Linked DNA regions of Homo sapiens. The protein of the gene in region 1 binds, or shares a complex with, the protein of each later gene. Each region holds a gene or a part of one and is shown on either strand. Other genes may lie near its edges. The genes, in order: SLC7A10 and SLC3A2.

Region 1 (8,601 bases):
AAAAGTAAGATAAAAAAGTGAGCAGGGCCGGGTGCCGTGGCTCATGCCTGTAATCCCAGCACTTTGGGAGGCTGAAGCGGGAGGATTACCTGAGGTCAGGGGTTCAAGACCAGCCTGGCCAACATGGTGAAACCCACTGTCTACTAAAAATACAAAAATTAGCCGGGCGTGGTGGTGGGCGCCTCTAATTACCAGCTACTCAGGAGGCTGAGGCAGGAAAATTGCTTGAACCGGGAGGCAGAGGTTGCAGTGAGCCACCGAGATTGCGCTACCGCACTCCAGCCTGGATGACAAGAGTGAGACTCCGTCTCAAAAAAAAAAAAAAAAGCGAGCAGTATCCCATGGCCGGCAGGATCCTGACCAAACCAGTAAGGGGCTGCGCTTCAGAGATGGGCATGTGCATTGGAGAGAAAAGGTATCCTTAACATAACCCCGTTATGATAATCAGCTACTTAAGGTTCATGCATATGAGCTGCATATCATGTATGTACTTAGGATTATGGGATGGAGGCAAGGTGCAAGCGCACGGGGGCCAAAGTAACTAAGCAACACACCTGTCAATCAAAAAGATAGACACTGGCTAGAGATTAGGCAGCCTTGGGAAGAGGGGGAAAAAAACAACATATAGAAAGACCCAAAGTACACCAAACTAATGCCGATCTCATCTCACAAAGATCAGTCCACTCTTCCTCTCCAAGAGTGGAATACTGCACTTAATACACTTTTTGCTATCTGTATATGTCTCTTCCAATTCTTTGTTCAAGTCGCCCAGATCCTGGAACTGTGTGGCACCATTCAGTAACACAAGGATAGGCCCGAGTGTGCTAACTCTCCTGCATTTCTGATTGCAAGTTTGTGGGTGCCAGATTGGTCCCTTATTATCTCATTCCTCAGGGGCATCAGAGAATCCCTGAGGGTGATGGGGGGTGCTGGCAGGTTGTACCTGCACCTGAAGTGGGAGGAAAGGTGGCAAAGCCTTGACACCAAGGTGAGGCTAGGGGCTGGGGAGGTGGCGTGATATCCAAGAGGCATCTAATACAGAGTGGAGATGCTGGATTTGGAGGTACTGCCAAATGGTTTTCCAAACTGGTGGTACCAACTCCACATCCTTGCCAACATTGGGTGTGTAATTTTCACCATTTTGGTGGCTACTCAGTGGTATCTTATTCTCGTTTTAATTTGCATTTCCCTGATGGCCCATGAGGTTTGAGTGCCTGTTCAGGAGTTTAACAGTCATTGGACATCCTCTTTTGGGAAGCACCTATTTAAAGTCCTTTGTTTTTTTTTTTTTTTTTTTTTTTTTTGAGATGGAGTCTCGCTCTGTTGCCCAGGCTAGAGTGCAGTGGCATGATCTCAGCTCACTTCAACCTCCGCCTCGCAGGTTCAAGCGATTCTCCTGCCTCGGCCTCCTGACTAGCTGGGACCACAGGCACTCACCACCACCCCCGGCCAATCTCTGCATTTTTAGTAGAGACAGGGTTTCACCATGTTGGCCAGGCTGGTCTCGAACTCCTGACCTCAAGTGATTCACCTGCCTTGCCCTTCCCAAGTGCTGGGGTTACAGGCATGAACCACCATGCCCGGCCTATTTTAAAACTTTTTCCTATTGATTTGATACATATTTTTCAATACAACTCATATGCTTATATTTTTAGATAGAAGTCCTTTATCGGCCATATGTATGGAAATAACTTCTCTCATATGTGGCTTACTCTTTCCTCTTTAATCATGTCTTTTGACTGACAGAAGTTTCTAATCTTAATGTAGTCCAATCTGTCACTTTCTTACTGTGTTTCTTATGTCTGTTTAAGAAAATGTATCTATTCTCTCCCCTGAGTTTTCTTCTAGCAGCTTTGATGTTTCACCTTTCACACGTACATTTCACATGTACATCACCTGGGACTGGTTTTAGGGTATAATGGAAGGGTGACATTAAAAGGGTTTTGGTTTTTTTCTTCAATATATAGATCCACCACCACTTATTGAAAAGCCCGTCCTTTCTCCACTGTTCTGCAATATCAACTTTGTCATAATAAACCAGGATGGGTCTGTTTCTGGATTTCTGTTTTCTTCCACCAGTAGATTTGTTTATCTTTGCATCAATGCCACACTGTCTTCCTTACTGTAGTATAAGTCCTCCAGATTTGTTCTTCTTCACATACTCTTTAGAATCAGCTTGTTGAGTTTCATCCCTCCAAAAAAGCCTTGTAATCAACAACAAAGTTGTCTGGTGCTTTGATCAAAATTACATTGGATGTATTTATCAATTCTATAAATCAATGTGGAGACCAACATTTTAAATTCCAATCCATGAACATGGTATATCCCTCCATTAGCTTATGTCTTTAACAATTTCTCTCAGAAATGTTTTGTAGTTTCTTGCATAAAAATTGTACACATCATTCACTAGAATTATTTTTAGGTATTTGATTTTATGCTATTATTAATTTCATTTTCTAATTATTTCTAGTATATAGAATACAATTAGTTTCTGTATATTAAACTTCTGTCTAGCGACTTTGCTAAATGAACTTATCTTCCTTAAATTAACCTGTAATTTTTTTTCTACATACTGAATCACATCATATGTGAATGGCAGCTTTATCTTTCCCTTTACTATCTTCATACCTTTTTACTTATTTTTCTTGTCTTATTGCTCTGGCTAGGACCTCCAGTACACTATTGTATAGAATATTGACAAGTGCCAACATCCCTTCTCATTTTCAATCTCAGTAGAAAAGCATTCACACTTTCACCACTAAACATGATGTCAGCTGTAGGGTTTTTGTTTGTTTCTTGGTTTCTTGGAGATTTGTTTTTAGGTAGATACTTTTATCAGATTAAGGAGGTTCTCTTCTGTTTCTATTTGCTAAGAGTTGTTTGTTTACATCACGGATGACTGTTTTTTGCATCTGTTGAGGTTTTCCTTTTTTCTCTCTATTAATGTGGAGAATCATGCTGATTGGTTTTTGGATGGTAAACCAATCCTACTAACCTTTTGTTCCCATTGAAATTTGCAGGTTCTAGTTCAATTCCACGAAAAGGACCTCCTGAGCTATGGGGCCTGGCTGACAACATACAAACTCCATCCTGTGCAAAGCCCTAGGCCGACCTTTCCCCCACAAACGCATACTCCACATTCCAGGTCCCAGAGAGACACCCTCGAAAACCACAGGCTTCAGAGCTGCGAGGCTTGCGCCAGCCCCTGCCCCTTGGCAAGCTGCCCCTGATTGCACCAGCCCTGGCTAGACCCTCTCCCAGCAGACCCTAGAATTGCGAGGGCAACTGGGGGGCTGGGGAGAGTCAAACCAGAAGGTCGAGGCCTCTGGCCCCTAACACCCGCGACAATCAGGGGTCTCCGGAGCCAGGGCTGCCCCTACCCTGCGCGAGGCTCCTTTAAGAGAGTCGGCCTCTGAATGGTCTCTGGGGCTGGAGGTGGAGGGCGCCAAGAATGCCGGTCTCCGACGACAGAAGCGAGAGGGATGCAGCTTCGCCGGGTGGCCTCCCCCTCGGCGTCCCACCAGCACGTCCACCCTGGATCCTCCCGCTCCTACTCCTACCCCAAGTCCCCGCCCCCAACTTCGAAGCTCCTGTGTGCCTGCAAACGCCGGCCCCGCCCCGCTCCCACCTCCAGGCCCTGCCGCTGCCAGGGACCCGCCCCTGCCAGGGACCCGCCCCCGCCCCGTCCCACCCCGGTCCACCCTGCAGCCGTCGGACCCCTGGCAGGGCCCCAGCAAACCCGGAGGCCGCCACTGGGGGGAAGGACGGGGCGCCCGGCGAGGCCTCATCCACATGCAGGGGACGGCGCGTCGCGGCGGCCGCCAGGAAGAAACAAAGGCTGTTCCGCCGCCGGCCGCACAGTGCCAGGCTCGCCCCGCCCGCCGCCCCGGTGGCCCCGACGCGGCCCCCCTGGATCTTTTCCGCCGGCCTCGGCTGCACAGTCCGGACGGCTTCCGGGAGGAGGCAGCCTCCCTCGGATCCCCGCACTCCCGACCCTCTCCCGCGACCACAGCCTCCTTCTCCGTGTCTCCCGGGCATTCCAGGTCGCCTGGCCTTCTTGAGCCGGGCTGGATCGCGCGGGACCTGCACCAGAGACCCGAGTTCTAGTCCGCTGAGCCCTCACTCTGACCTGGGACGAGGAGCCTGTAGTGAAGATCTCAGGCCAGAGGTGGCCCAGAGCCTGGTAGGGTGGGCGAGCCGTGTCCAGGACTCGTCACAGGTCTTGGGTCCCCGTGATGAGGATGAGAGCCCCCGGGATCTTCACCTCGACCCTCAGGCCTTTGATCCAGGGTGCATAGGACACCCAGACCCCTCAGAGGAGTTCCAGACCTCAACCCCCACCCCTCCTGAGGTTGTCCGCCTGGGAGCCTCAGGAGGCACGAGAAAGGGTTTGGTCTCAGCCCTGCACTTGCTCGGCGATCGCTACTGATCTCTGGGCTTCAACTTCCACCTGTAGAATGGACTCACCCTGGGAGCTGTCTCCTACACACACACACACACACACACACACACACACACACACACACACATCGTGCAGGCATAGAGTACTAAAGGGAGCACACACTGCATCCCCACACGCGGCCAGCTGTTATTCTTGCCGTCCCCCTCGGCCTCCCTGAGAGCAGGGATTGTCTTGTCTCGGAGCTCTGCTCCCCAACCCGGCCCCAAGAATGGATGTAACTCAGGCAACTGGAGGGTCCCTTCCTTCGCCCAACTGGGAAGTCCTTCCTAGATCTGCCCCAAGTCCTCTCCTTCCTTCCCAGGCCGGGACTGGGGGAGGGGGCGTTCCCTTTAAGGGAGGTGGGGGAGGGGGCTGTGGGCCGGCCCTCCTTCCGCCCCTCCCGGGCCCCCGCCGCCCGGGGCCCCCAGTCCCGGGCCCGGAGCCAGCGCATGCGCCCGCCTGTGGGCGCTGTCCCGGCTGCGAGGGCCGTGAGCTCACGGACCGACGGACCGACGGGCGGCCGGCCGGACAGACGGGGCAGCGCAGGGAGCGGGGACGCGGCGGGACAGCGACATGGCCGGCCACACGCAGCAGCCGAGCGGGCGCGGGAACCCCAGGCCTGCGCCCTCGCCCTCCCCAGTCCCAGGGACCGTCCCCGGCGCCTCGGAGCGGGTGGCGCTCAAGAAGGAGATCGGGCTGCTGAGCGCCTGCACCATCATCATCGGTGAGCGGGACCCAGGCGGGCGGGCGCCGGGCGGAGGCCGAATGAGGGGCGCAGCCGCTCCGAACGAGGGGCGTCCCCTCTCCGGGCGCTCGGACGGGTCTGCCTGGGGAACCTGCAGTCTGGCCTCAGAGAGCGCTATGACCGCGGGGAGGTCAGGGGCTGCTGGCCCAGGGTGCCAAAGCTCCGTGTTCCCACCTCCCGGCCGCCTGCACCTGGGGGAGTTTTGGGTCCCCTCCACCGCTGGACTCTTCCTCCTGACTCGATTTTGCTGCGGGGCTTTTGCAAGGCAGTTACCCTCAGTTTCCTCATCTGTGAAATGGCCATGACTGCAGTCCTGCGATTAGCGCAGGAACTTGACCAGTGTAGGGGCTGGTCAGGCTGCGGCAGGCTGAGCTCCCCAAGTTCTGTACTGTGGGTCAGTCTGAGTACCTACTGTGTGCAGGGTCCAGGTGCCACGCAGTGCAGTGACTTTATTCTTGGAAAGCAGGAGGGCCTATGAGCAGAGTGAGCAAGCGCAGCCTGCGCAGAAGGGACGGAGGTTCAGAGCAGGCAATGACTGCAGGGTTTGGCAGCAGGACCCAGGAGAGGGGGCGGGTTAGCCAGCAATTGGGGGCAGCAGTGGGCAGACCCAGCCTGCAGAAGGCCAGCTGCTCCCTGAGCTGGGATCCTGGTGGGCACTGGACACTCGCCTGGTCTGGAGGCCCTGGACTCCAAAGTCCCCACCTGAGAATGGGTCCATGTCCTGCCCCCACATAGGGGTTTCTGGGCAGGCAGAGAGCTCAGAGGTCATGGGAATGGCAGTGGTATTTTTCCACTCTCTGTCCCAAGTCATGGATACTGACTTGTTTCTTTGTCTACACAGAGTGCCTCTGAGCCCCTCCAGGGAGGGACAGGAGAAGTGGTTTGGGGGGTGAGTGACTGGGGCCTCGACTGTTCTCACCTTACCGCCAGCCAGTCTTCCCGGTCCCCTGCCAGTGAGAGCCACTTGTGTCTTCACTGCCTTCCCACCCTCAGACCCCTGGAGATGGAGAAAGTTTGGGGGCTCAGTAGGGCAGACCCAGGGTCTTCACCTCGTCCTCTCCCACCCCCACATTAGCAGCTCTTCACATCCAGAGTTGCCCCTGAACACAGCCCCTGGCCAGGTCACTCCGCCATCTCACCCCCTCCCCTTAGAATGCTGTCTCCCAGAGCCTGGTCCTGACCTGGCCCTGGGAGCTTCTTGGCCTAGGATGCCCCTGCCTGATGGACGGTCTGCTGGAAGGAAGGGCTGGTTCCAGGGATTTGGCCAGGGTGCTGGTTAGAGCTTTTTCTTGGCCCACACCCTCTCCAGGAACTGTCCTCCAGGGAAGGGGAAGCTCACACCATGAGTGGGTCATAGGATTGAGACCATGCCTAGAACCAGCTACAGTGCCAGGCAGGTGCAGAAAGACACAGCTCTGCCTGGGCTCCTCAGCTAAGCCCAGCATCCTTGACCTGTCTTCCTACTCTATCCCCTCCCCACATCCCATCCTCCCCAGGCCACAGGGAGGCTGCCTGGCTCCTTTCTCCCCAGAAAGGGGCCCTGGTGGTGGTGGTGGTGGTGGTGGTGGTGGTGGTGGTGGTGGTGGTGATGGTAGAGGTGGTGGTGGTGGGAGTGGAGAAGGCCAACTCCACTATCACCCTCCTTTTCCAGGACAGACTCTGTAAGTTTCCCATGCAGCCCAGGTCTGCCCTGACAGCTCCCCTACCCTTCAGTTCCTTCCTGCTGTGCCAGGTCCACTACCTTGGCCTCCAAACCTTGAACACTGAGCCAGGGTGAAGGGCCACTTAGCTAACCAAGGATGCTGGATTCAGCTACAGAACCCAAGCCCGGGGCACTCAGTGGTGGTCTTGGGGAGCCTTGATCTTGGCCTGGCCCGGGGAGCCTTTGAGGATTACAGCAGGCAGGAGGCTGGACGAGGCAGGAAAAAACAAGGAGATCAACCTCAACCAGAAGGTGATAGGAGGTGGGGACTGGGCAGGTGAGGACTGAGCTGGGGTCTGCACTGCCTTCCCCACCTGATGTACTAAGGGTCTCCCCTCCCCAGCCCACCCCACCTTTCTGCCCCAGGTGGGCTCACTCTCTCTCCACCAATACCCTGGGGAGCCTGGTCAGAATCAAAAATGTCTGCAAAGTGTCATATTTTAGCTCTAAAAGTCAAGAACTTGACGTCCTGCTTCCTTTCCTTTCCTTTCTTTTTCTTTCTTTTTTTTTTTTTTTTTTTCTGAGACAGAGTCTGGCTGTGTCCCCTAGGCTGGAGTGCAGTGGCACAATCTCAGCTCATTGCAACCTCCACCTCCGGGGTTCAAGTAATTCTCCTGCGTCAGCCTCCCAAGTAGCTAGGATTACAGGCACACACCACCATGTCCAGCTAATTTTTGTATTTTCAGTAGAGACAGAGTTTCACCATGTTGGCCAGGCTGGTCTCGAACTCCTAACCTCAAGTGATCTGCCTGCCTTGGCCTCCCAAAGTGCTGGGATTACAGGTGTGAGCCACCCTGCCCAGCCAACGTCCTGCTTCATAATCTACCTTGGTTTGTTATTGTTATTGAACATGTTATTTCCAAAACTTCCACAGCGACCCTCCTAGGAGATCCTGTCACTCTCTCCCTCGTGTATACCCTCTGCTCCAGCTCAGACTGGGAATTGAGGCTTTTGAGAATGGGAAGACCTGGAAGGGTGGGCTATGGGCTGGCGTGAGACTCATGTATAGTGTGTTTAGGGCAGTGCCCGCCGGCCACTGCAAGCACAGATGGAAGGGAATCGGCCAGGCTGGAGGAAATAGAACTGGCTGGGGCAGGGGCTCTGCAGGACATCATCACATCCAATATCTGTTCAGAAAAACACCTCTTACTGCCTTATGAAAACATGTTCTTCCTTTATCTCATTTGAATCTCATGCCCACCTTGCAAGGTAGGAATTTTTATACCCATTTTACAGAGTGGAAACTAAGGTTGGAAGTGAAATGATACTGCTCCAAGGGGTAGGCTCAGGATTTGGAACCAGATTTGGGCTCTGTTCCCAGTCCAGTGCCTATTTTATTTTATTTTATTTTATTTTATTTTATTTATTTTATTTTATTTTATTTATTTTATTTTATTTTATTTTATATTTTATTTTATATTTTATTTTATTAAAACAAACTCTTGCTCCATAGCACAAACTATAGTGCAGTGGCATGATCATAGCTCACTGCAGCCTCGACCTCCCAGGCTCAAGCAATCCTCCCACCTCAGCCTTCCAAACACCTGGAACCACAGGTGCCCGCCACCACACCTGGCTAATTTTTGTATTTTTTGTAGAGACTGGGTTTTGCCATGTTGCCCAGGCTGATCTCAAATTCCTAGGCTCAAGTGATCCTCCCACCTCAGCCTCCCAGAGTGTTAGGGTTACAGGCGGGAGCCATCATGCCCGGTC
Region 2 (9,491 bases), on another chromosome or scaffold:
ATGGTGAAACCCCGTCTCTACTAAAAATACACAAAAAAATCAAAATTAGCTGGGCGTGGTGGTGGGCACCTGGAGTCCGCAGGAGAATAGTGTGAACCTTGGAAGGCAGAGCTTGTAGTGAGCTGAGATCGCACCACTGTACTCCAGCCTGGGCGACAGAGCGAGACTTCATCTCAAAAAAAAAAGTCCTTCTTAGATGTTTTTAGTTGTTTGTTTATTTTTCGAGATGGAGTTTTGCTCTTGTTGCCCAGGCTGAAGTGCAATGGCACGATCTGGGCCCATTGCAACCTCTGCCTCCCAGGTTCAAGCGATTCTCCTGCCTCAGCCTCCTGAGTAGCTGGGATTACAGGCAGCCACCACCATGCCCAGCTCATTTTTGTATTTTTAGTAGAGATGGGGTTTCACCACGTTGGCCAGGCTGGTCTCAAACTCCTGACCTCAGGTGATCCGCCCGCCTCAGCCTCTCAAAGTGCTGGGATTGCAGGCATGAGCCACTGCGCCCAGCCTGTTTGTTTGTTTTCAGATAGGGTCACCCTGTCAGCCAGGCTGGAATGCAATGGTGTGATTGTGATCACAGCTCACTGCTGCCTCAACCTGAGGGCTCAAGTGATCCTCCCACTTCAGCCTCCTTAGTAACTGGGACCACAGGGGTGAGCCACCATGCCTGGCTAATTTGTTAATTTTTGTAGAGATGGGGTCTCCCTATGTTGCCGAGGCTGGTCTCAAACTACTGGGCTTAAGTGATCCTCCTGCCTTAGCTTCCCAGAGCGCTGGGATTAAAGGCATGAGCTGCTGTGCCTGGTCAATCCTTTTTACATGTTTGAGGAAAAATAAATGTCCTGTTTTCAGGCTAAGATCAAGTAATAATCCTCATGTGTTAGGAAGCATGTGACATGGATTTTTGCAGCAGAGGGTTAGAAAGGAACTTTCTTTATATACTTGGCCCCCTGCATTTCAGGGCTCCACCGCCATCTGTCTGTCTGAGTGTAAAGTGGACCTTATTGGCATCTGGGCTGCCAAACTGCTTTTTTTCCTTTGCTTTGCCCAGCCTTCTCTTGAAGGCTAAATTCTTGAAAAATTATATTCTTTGTGTTCCTATAGTAAATATTAAGCTTTATATCAACACATATGGCAGGATCTGAGGCTCTTTACTCACCTCTGGTCCATTTCTCTAGTCTTTTCTCTGTAGTCTTTTTGTTTTCCTGTCCTCCATCTCCTAATTTATTAGTTTTATTATTATATTTTATATTATTTTTTTGAGACAGAGTTTTGCTCTTGTTGCCCAGGCTGGAGTGCAATGGCGCGATCTTGGCTCACTGCAATCCCTGCCTCATGGGTTCAAGTGATTTGTCTGCCACAGCCTCCTGAGTAGCTGAAATTACAGGCACGCACCACCATACCTGGCTAATTTTTGTATTTTTAGTAGAAACGGGGTTTCACCATGTTAGCCAGGCTGATATTGAATTCCTGACCTCAATTGATCCGACTGCCTCGGCCTCCGGAAGTGCTGGGATTACAGGTGAGCCACAGTGCCTGGCAGTTTGTTTTATTTTGGTTGAACAGTTACAAGTCTTGGTTTGTTTTCCTGCAGCAACAGGTTTATCTTGATATGATACAGCGTTATTTAAATTCCTTTTCATTTTCCTGCCTTTGTCTTCACATGCTAGTTTTTTTCAGTTGTTTCTTTTTTCTTCTTCCTTTTCTTTTTTTTTTTTTTTGAGAGATAGTCTTGCTGTGTTGTCCAGGTTGCAGTACAGTGGTGCGATCTGGGCTCACTGCAACCTCTGCCTCCTGGGTTCAAGTGATTCTCTCACCTCAGCCTCCGGAGTAGCTGGGATTACAGGTGCCCACCACCACGCCTGGCTAATTTTTGTATTTTTAGTAGAGACAGCGTTTCACCATGTTGGCCAGGCTGGTCTTGAACTCCTGACCTCAATTGATCTGCCTGCCTTGGTCTCCCAAAGTGCTGATTACAGGTGTGATCCACCGTGCCTAGCCTGTTTAGTTGTTTCTAAGAAGGGAGATATTGGTTTTGATTGACATAGTTCATCCACTTATTTACCAAACACTTGCGAAGTGCCTACTATATGCTGCCTCCGAATAGGCAGGTTCGTCCACAATAGCACAAGGCTCCTGCCACTTGTCTTCAAGGACAAAGAGACATCCAGACAAACAAATGTAATAAACAAATGGGACATGATTGTAGCAGAGGCAGATGCATGGTGGAGGGAAAGTAATTTTGTCTGGGGAGTTGAGAAAAGCTGTCACTTGAGCTAGATCTTGAATGAATAGGAACTCATGAGGTTGAGTGGACAAACAGGAAGGGCCAACAGCAGAGGTATGGCATGTACAAGATGCAGAGCTCTGCCTGAAAAAGCCTGGTGTGTTGTGAGTCTGGCAGGTGTTTGAAGGCTGATGTGGCTGGAGGCTAGTGCCTGTGAAGCAGGTGGTGGCTGATAAGATTGGAGAGGCAAGCTGTTATCCTCTTTATGCATGCAGAAGGAATTGACTTCAGGCTGGGCACAGTGGCTCATGCCTGTAATCCCAGCACTTTGGGAGGCTGAGGCGGGCAGATCACCTGAAGTTAGGAGTTCAAGACCAGCCTGGCCAACATGGTGAAACCCTGTCTCTCCTAAAAATACAAAATTAGCCGGGTGTGGCGGTGCACGCCTCCTATAATCTCAACTACTGGGGAGGCTCAGGAAGAAGAATCGCTTGAACCTGAGAGGCACAGGTTGCAGTGAGCTGAGATCGCGCCACTGCACTCCATGCTGGGTGACAGTGTGAGACCCTGTCTCAAAAAAAAAAAAACAAAAAACAAAAGGAATTGACTTCAGCCATTTGGAGCCATGAGGATCTGTGAGTGAGATACTGTGTCATGTTGGACCATCTCAAAGACAGCTTCTGACCCCACAGTTCTCAACCTTGTTCTTACTTATTTTTAGAGACAGGGTCTCGCTCTGTCTCCTAGGCTGGTATGCAGTGGTGCCACCATGGCTCACTGCAGCCTCACAAACTCCTGGACTCAAGTGATCCTCCTGCTTTTGCTTCCCTTGAGTGTTGGCATCTCATGGGACTCCAGGGGCACATCACCAATTACAGATGATAATTTTTTTTTTTTTTGAGACGGAGTCTTGCTCTGTATCCCAGGCTGGAGTGCAGTGGCGCGATTTTGGCTCACTGCAAGCTCCGCCTCCCAGGTTCACGTCATTCTCCTGCCTCAGCCTCCTAAGTAGCTGGGACTACAGGCACCCGCCACCACGCCTGGCTGATTTTTTTTTTTTTTTTTTGCATTTTTAGTAGAGACGGGGTTTCACTGTGTTAGCCAGGATGGTCTCGGTCTCCTGACCTCTTGATCCACCTGCCTCGGCCTCCCAAAGTGCTGGTATTACAGGTGTGAGACACCACGCCTGGCCTTTTTTTTTCTTTTTTGAGACAGAGTCTCACTCTGTCACCCAGGCTGGAGTGCAGCCGCGCAATCTTGGCTCACTGCAACCTCTGCCTCTCGGGTTCAAGCGATTCTCATGCCTCACCCCTCCAAGTCTGGGACTACAGGCGTGTGCTACTATGTCCAGTTAATTTTTGTATTTTTAGTAGAGATGGGGTTTCACCATGTTGGCCAGGCTGGTCACGAACTCCTGACCTCAAGTTATCCGCCACCCTCAGCCTCCCAAAGTGCTGGGATTACAGGTGTCAGCCACCACACCTGGCCTGTTAGTTTTTTTGAGGCAGAGTCTTGCTCTATCACCCAGACTGGAGTGCAGTGGCCCATTCTTGGCTCACTGCAACCTCTACCTCCTGGGTTCAAGCGATTCTCATGCCACAGCATGAGAAGTGGGATTACAGGGATTAGTAGGTGGGATTACAGGTGTGAGCCACCACACCCAGCCAGGCCCAGATAATTTTAAAATTTATTTTTTTATTTATTTAGAAATGGAGTCTCACTATGTTGCCCCGTCTGGTCTTAAACTCCTGGCCTCAAGGAATCCTCCCTCCTTGGCCTCCTAAAGGGCTAGGTGACAGGCATGAGTCACACTGCGCCCAGCCTTGAGCTTTTGTGCTCGAGATATAGTCCATTCAGAACCTCTGGTTGGCACTTCTTATCTGGCACATGCAGGGCACCTTGGATCTCTTATTATCTTTGAGCACTGGTCTGAACCCACTTGCTTGCCTTCTCCCAGGGGCTGCCCCGTGCACCCCTTGTTCCTAGGGTGGGGATGGGGTTGGATGCCTGGGGTTGCAGAGGGGACTAGCAGAGGGTGACCCTTTTCTCTATGCTATTACTTCAGATCTTGGCTTTTGCTTTCTTCCAAATACACAGCAATCTTGGCTTCCAGCCTAGGTGGGAAAGGGAGAAAGAACCGATTTCCTCCAGCTCCTCTCTGAAAGTAGCCCAACTGGCACTGTTTAGGAACAAGGAGTTCCTGAGAGTGTTGGCACCCCACGGTGTTGATGTCCGGTAGTTCCCTGCTGTGAACCCTGTCTCTGCCCCACTTCAATCCAAGGACCCTGTGGAGGGAATTCTAGGCTTCTTCAAAGCCTCTGCAGTACCAGCTGCCTCCAAGGCCTAACATAGTGAAGTGATAGGGAGACAGGACCTTGGGGGAGTTTGGGGATAACTGTGGGAGTTCCTGCAAGGTGGGTAAGAGTCTGGCCATGGCATCTTCTGGTCTATTCCACAAAAAAGGTGGATGCCTCTGAGACCTAGCTCTGTTATGTTCATTACAGCCCTATCAGTCTCTTCTGGATGTCTGATTCCTAGCTGCCAAACATCCAGGTGCTAGCAGCTGGGGGTGGGGTAGGATAAGAAGGGGGGTGTCTACCTCAACCTTCCTGCCCAAACCATTCATTTTAAAGTACTGTGAAGAAGGCTGGATTAGTGTTAAATTCAATAAAGTTAACAAAGCAAAGTATTGTAGTGAGTACACAATAAATAGTTGCTGCATGAGGAATTTCTTGAAATGAATTCAAGATGAGTCTTGAAAAACGAGTGGGAGTAAGCCGTGCACGGAAGCAGAGGTCTAGCAGAGGTCTAGCGCCAAGTCCCAGAGGCCTGAGAGGGCAAGCCTTGGTGGGGGAAAAGGCAGAAGTTGTGACTGGCTGCCTCTGAGAGTGCAAGTAGCCATGCAAAGTTGGGAAAACCAGACGGCGGCCGGAGCCGTGAACCAGGGGCAAATGGAGGATGGTGTTGGGGTAGTCACTAGCCTGCCGGAATGGAAGAAGAGGGGCGTTTGGGGGCGGTAAGGCCTAAAGGACACTGGAGGGGCCTCGGGATTTGGGGCAGGATCACAGGCCTAGTCCACTTAAAGGTGGCTCCGTGCCAGGCCTTCCCAGAATCAGGTTGAAAAGAACTTTAGGGTTAGACAGGTTGGAGATGAGAAATTGGACCATGCAGGAAGTACTGTCGGAGGCGTGTTCCTGACTTTACTACCCTGAGCCGCCCACGGCTGGGGCAGTCCCCGAGGTTCCACCTTAAGGGGCGGGCCGGGGCGGGGCTCCGCTGCCCCTTCCCAGAGGCCGCGCCTGCTGCTGAGCAGATGCAGTAGCCGAAACTGCGCGGAGGCACAGAGGCCGGGGAGAGCGTTCTGGGTCCGAGGGTCCAGGTAGGGGTTGAGCCACCATCTGACCGCAAGCTGCGTCGTGTCGCCGGTTCTGCAGGCACCATGAGCCAGGACACCGAGGTGGATATGAAGGAGGTGGAGCTGAATGAGTTAGAGCCCGAGAAGCAGCCGATGAACGCGGCGTCTGGGGCGGCCATGTCCCTGGCGGGAGCCGAGAAGAATGGTCTGGTGAAGATCAAGGTGGCGGAAGACGAGGCGGAGGCGGCAGCCGCGGCTAAGTTCACGGGCCTGTCCAAGGAGGAGCTGCTGAAGGTGGCAGGCAGCCCCGGCTGGGTACGCACCCGCTGGGCACTGCTGCTGCTCTTCTGGCTCGGCTGGCTCGGCATGCTTGCTGGTGCCGTGGTCATAATCGTGCGAGCGCCGCGTTGTCGCGAGCTACCGGCGCAGAAGTGGTGGCACACGGGCGCCCTCTACCGCATCGGCGACCTTCAGGCCTTCCAGGGCCACGGCGCGGGCAACCTGGCGGGTGAGTGCAGCGCGCCCCCGTCCCGGGTACCTCCGGTTGAATCTGGTGGCTTGCACCGACCCCCTCCCCTGTCCCCAGACGGATCTAGATGGTTCTTCCCTCCATCCCGTACCGACGACTGTTCCCCCTTCCCCCACCCCCTCCCCGGCACATTGTCCTTCCCTCCTTTCTTTGAAGAAAGCCGACCCGCCCCTCACTCCGTCACGAGGGTGGGTGACTCAGCGTCCTCCTTCCCCGCGGCGCCAGAAGCCAGTTGCAACCGGTTTCTGAAGTAATGTGCAGGACTCCTTACATCAGCTCCTCTGAGTCTCGTGATTCAGCCTTGCCTCCCTCTCTCCCCCTTTGCCCCCTCCCCGTCCCACCCTTAGGCGCTGGGAGAAGGGAGGGTGGGGAGGTCAGGGGCCTCTCAGAGGGGCCTCACTTGTTAACCCAGCCCCCATTTCAGGTCTGAAGGGGCGTCTCGATTACCTGAGCTCTCTGAAGGTGAAGGGCCTTGTGCTGGGTCCAATTCACAAGAACCAGAAGGATGATGTCGCTCAGACTGACTTGCTGCAGATCGACCCCAATTTTGGCTCCAAGGAAGATTTTGACAGTCTCTTGCAATCGGCTAAAAAAAAGAGTGGGTATCCTGGGGTTCCCAAGGAAACAGCTAGAAAGGACTTGGCCAGAGGAAAAGTAGGCTAGAACTTTTGTCTGGTTTCCTGCTAACTGGCTCTGAGTTTTCCTAGGGCAGGTAGAGGGGAGATTTGTTAGTCTTCAGCCTAAAATGGATTTGTCCAGTCGTCTGGGGGCTTTCTACTTGGCTGTGGAATCTTGAGCAGGTCATTTAACTTCTGGGCTTCAGTGCCCTTATTTGCAAAATATAGATATTTACTAAACCAGTGGTTTTAAACTTGTAAAACAGTAGGTTTTTTTGGGGGGGGGGAATCCCAAATATTGTTTTACGACTCGATATAGACACATGTTTAAAAAGGTTCACTTTGGGAGTGGGGAACACAGGGGCCACTTCTCTGCACTATAAACTTTCTGCCTTCCAATATCTTTTTTTTTTTTTGAGATGGAGTCTCACTCTTGTCACCCAGGCTGCAGTGCAGTGGAACGATCTCAGCTTACTGCAGCCTCCTCCCCCAGGGTTCAAGCGATTCTCGTGCCTCAGCCTCCTGAGTAGCTGGTACTACAGCCGTGTGCCACCACACCCAGATAATTTTTTTATTTTTAGTAGAGACAATTTTCAACATGTTGACCGGTCTGGTTTTGAACTCGCCTGGCCTGCCTTCCCATATCTTAAGGCCCTTCCTTGCTCACATCTGTTTCAATGGAATGAATTTTGCCCGGGTTCAAATTCAAGCTTTTGTACCAAGTAATACATAGGAAACACTCAGTGACTTGCATTTGTGATTTCCTTATTTTCCCTTAACTCATAGACTGTCTCATGATTGCGTCTTCCTCCGTTGTTTTAGGCATCCGTGTCATTCTGGACCTTACTCCCAACTACCGGGGTGAGAACTCGTGGTTCTCCACTCAGGTTGACACTGTGGCCACCAAGGTGAAGGTGAGTGTTGGAGCTGATGGCTGGTGGAAGTCAGATGCTGGGGCTGGGACAGTCCTTTCACAGCAAGCCCTGTAGACCCAGCCTGACTCCAGCTGAGGGTCCCTTTGCTCCTTAGGACCAAGGAGGAATGCCTCCTCCTATAGCCAAAGGATAGGCCAATAGCACACCTGTTTTTCTTGTTCCTTTTCTGACCTCTTATTTTTCTTATTTCCTTGACTCTGAGGATGAGACAGTGCCAGGAAGGGACCTTCTCAGAAGTCAGTCTGGAAGTTTGATTTTTCTTTCTTTTGGGAGAGGAAGCCCTTTCTCTGTGAGAATCCTGTCCTGACTGGTTTCCCAGTTCTTGTTTGATGTGTTTGGAATAGAGCCCAGTCTGAAATTATAAGCACTGGGGTACTCCTATGTGTCTGGGACTCTATGCCAAGTATTTTATAGATGTTTTCTAATTCTCTGTATAACCATACAAGGTATATAATTTGCCATAGGTTCAAATGTGTACCCAGCAGGCTAGGAGTAGGGCTTTGAATGTCACCTAGCTCCTGATGTCTGGGTCCTAGGACACTGACCTGTTCAGAATGGGTAGAACAAAAATGGAAGCAGATACTGACACTGCTGGTAGCTGTGATTCTAAGATAGAATTCTGGACTCCCAGCATTTGGGTAGGACCCCGGGATCATCCAGTTTAGGCCTTGCCAGTTACTAGGGGACCCTTTAAAAGTTGCTGATGAGGGAATGTTTTTGGATGGTTTGGCATGAGGGGCGGTACCCTCAGATGGAAATGGAGACCAGAGGAGAGAGTACATGGCCCAGAGAAAGGGAAGAAAAGGAGAATGGGGGTGAAGTTCCACAGTGTGTGCAGGACTGCCAGGATTCCATTCAGCAGCACTGGCCTCTTTTCAAATCTAAACTGCCCTGGGGCTATGCTTTGAATTTCAATCTTTCATCCTTGGCCTTGCTCTGAGCAGTTATTGTACTCACACCTTCCCCAGGCCTCAGGAAACTGGGAGAGGGGGGATCTTGACTGACATTTTAGATCCTGTCTGCTGCTCACTGATTATGACTGTGGACGCGTCTCCCTGCTTCTCTGGGTCTGTTTCTTCATCTCTAAAATAGGTATGCTAACATTCCAATGCTAAGTGTTAAACGAAGTTATGTTTATGGACATACCTTTTCTCTGGGGCCTTTTCTGTGGCTTTCAAAGTTGAAGCTGTGTGATTTGCCAGAGGCAAGAATGAGAAGTAAAATGCTGTAGCACTAAGAAAATGAGTGGAAGGGTAGAGCTGGAGGGGTCCAAAGGCTAAGCCTTTGTAGTGCAGGTGGGGAAGACCCAGGCAAGGCACAGGACTCTCCCCAGCTCCCGGGGAAGTGTGTGGTGGGTGAGGTTTAGTGTGGGCTGGAATTTTCTGAGCCTTTTCCTGAGAACTGATGTCTGTCCTTTATTCTTCTGCCCCCTATAGGATGCTCTGGAGTTTTGGCTGCAAGCTGGCGTGGATGGGTTCCAGGTTCGGGACATAGAGAATCTGAAGGTGAGTTCCCTTTCCACATTAGGGACAAAGCTTGGGCGAGAACAGAGGGACTCAGCTAGAGCCTCATAATATTCTCTGGTCCTTGATTCTGCTTTTTTCTTTCTAGGATGCATCCTCATTCTTGGCTGAGTGGCAAAATATCACCAAGGGCTTCAGTGAAGACAGGTGGGTGCAGGAGCCATTCTGCTGACTCAGCTCCAATGTGGGAACCCCTCAGTGGAGTGCTAGGCCTAAGAAGGGGGGATTCCTAGTCTAGAGCATTTTCTTTACCTTTATTCTTTCTTTAGCTTTTTTTTTTTTTTTTTTTTTTTTTTTTTTTTTTTGAG

What was found.
Region 2: the proteins of SLC7A10 (region 1) and SLC3A2 are in contact, whole or in part, in a cryo-EM structure (PDB 8WNT), measured with the Homo sapiens proteins. Residues at the interface, in NP_062823.1 of Homo sapiens: Leu147, Val150, Phe151, Asn153, Cys154, Pro157, Ala160, Val163, Leu164, Met166, Ala167, Met170, Leu171, Trp174, Ser352, Val359, Glu481, Thr484, His485, Trp486, Gln488, Glu489, Leu490, Phe492, Val493, Val494, Tyr495, Gln497; in NP_002385.3 of Homo sapiens: Phe161, Thr162, Gly163, Leu164, Lys166, Leu169, Leu170, Val172, Ala173, Trp178, Arg182, Leu186, Phe189, Trp190, Trp193, Met196, Leu197, Ala200, Ile203, Ile204, Ala207, Pro208, Arg209, Cys210, Arg211, Glu212, Leu213, Arg534.

What each region holds. Positions count from the first base shown.
Region 1 is NC_000019.10:33,222,117-33,230,717, reverse strand, and holds the start of SLC7A10 (asc-type amino acid transporter 1), read left to right. Parts: upstream 1-4,867; 5' UTR 4,868-4,890; coding exon of another isoform or gene 4,891-5,014; coding exon 5,015-5,165; intron 5,166-8,601. UniProt on the Homo sapiens protein: Associates with SLC3A2/4F2hc to form a functional heterodimeric complex that translocates small neutral L- and D-amino acids across the plasma membrane. Preferentially mediates exchange transport, but can also operate via facilitated diffusion.
Region 2 is NC_000011.10:62,875,361-62,884,851, forward strand, and holds the start of SLC3A2 (amino acid transporter heavy chain SLC3A2), read left to right. Parts: upstream 1-5,535; 5' UTR 5,536-5,658; coding exon of another isoform or gene 5,659-5,663; coding exon 5,664-6,087; intron 6,088-6,338; exon of another isoform or gene 6,339-6,532; coding exon 6,533-6,706; intron 6,707-7,547; coding exon 7,548-7,639; intron 7,640-8,628; exon of another isoform or gene 8,629-8,752; intron 8,753-9,096; coding exon 9,097-9,165; intron 9,166-9,271; coding exon 9,272-9,330; intron 9,331-9,491. UniProt on the Homo sapiens protein: Acts as a chaperone that facilitates biogenesis and trafficking of functional transporters heterodimers to the plasma membrane.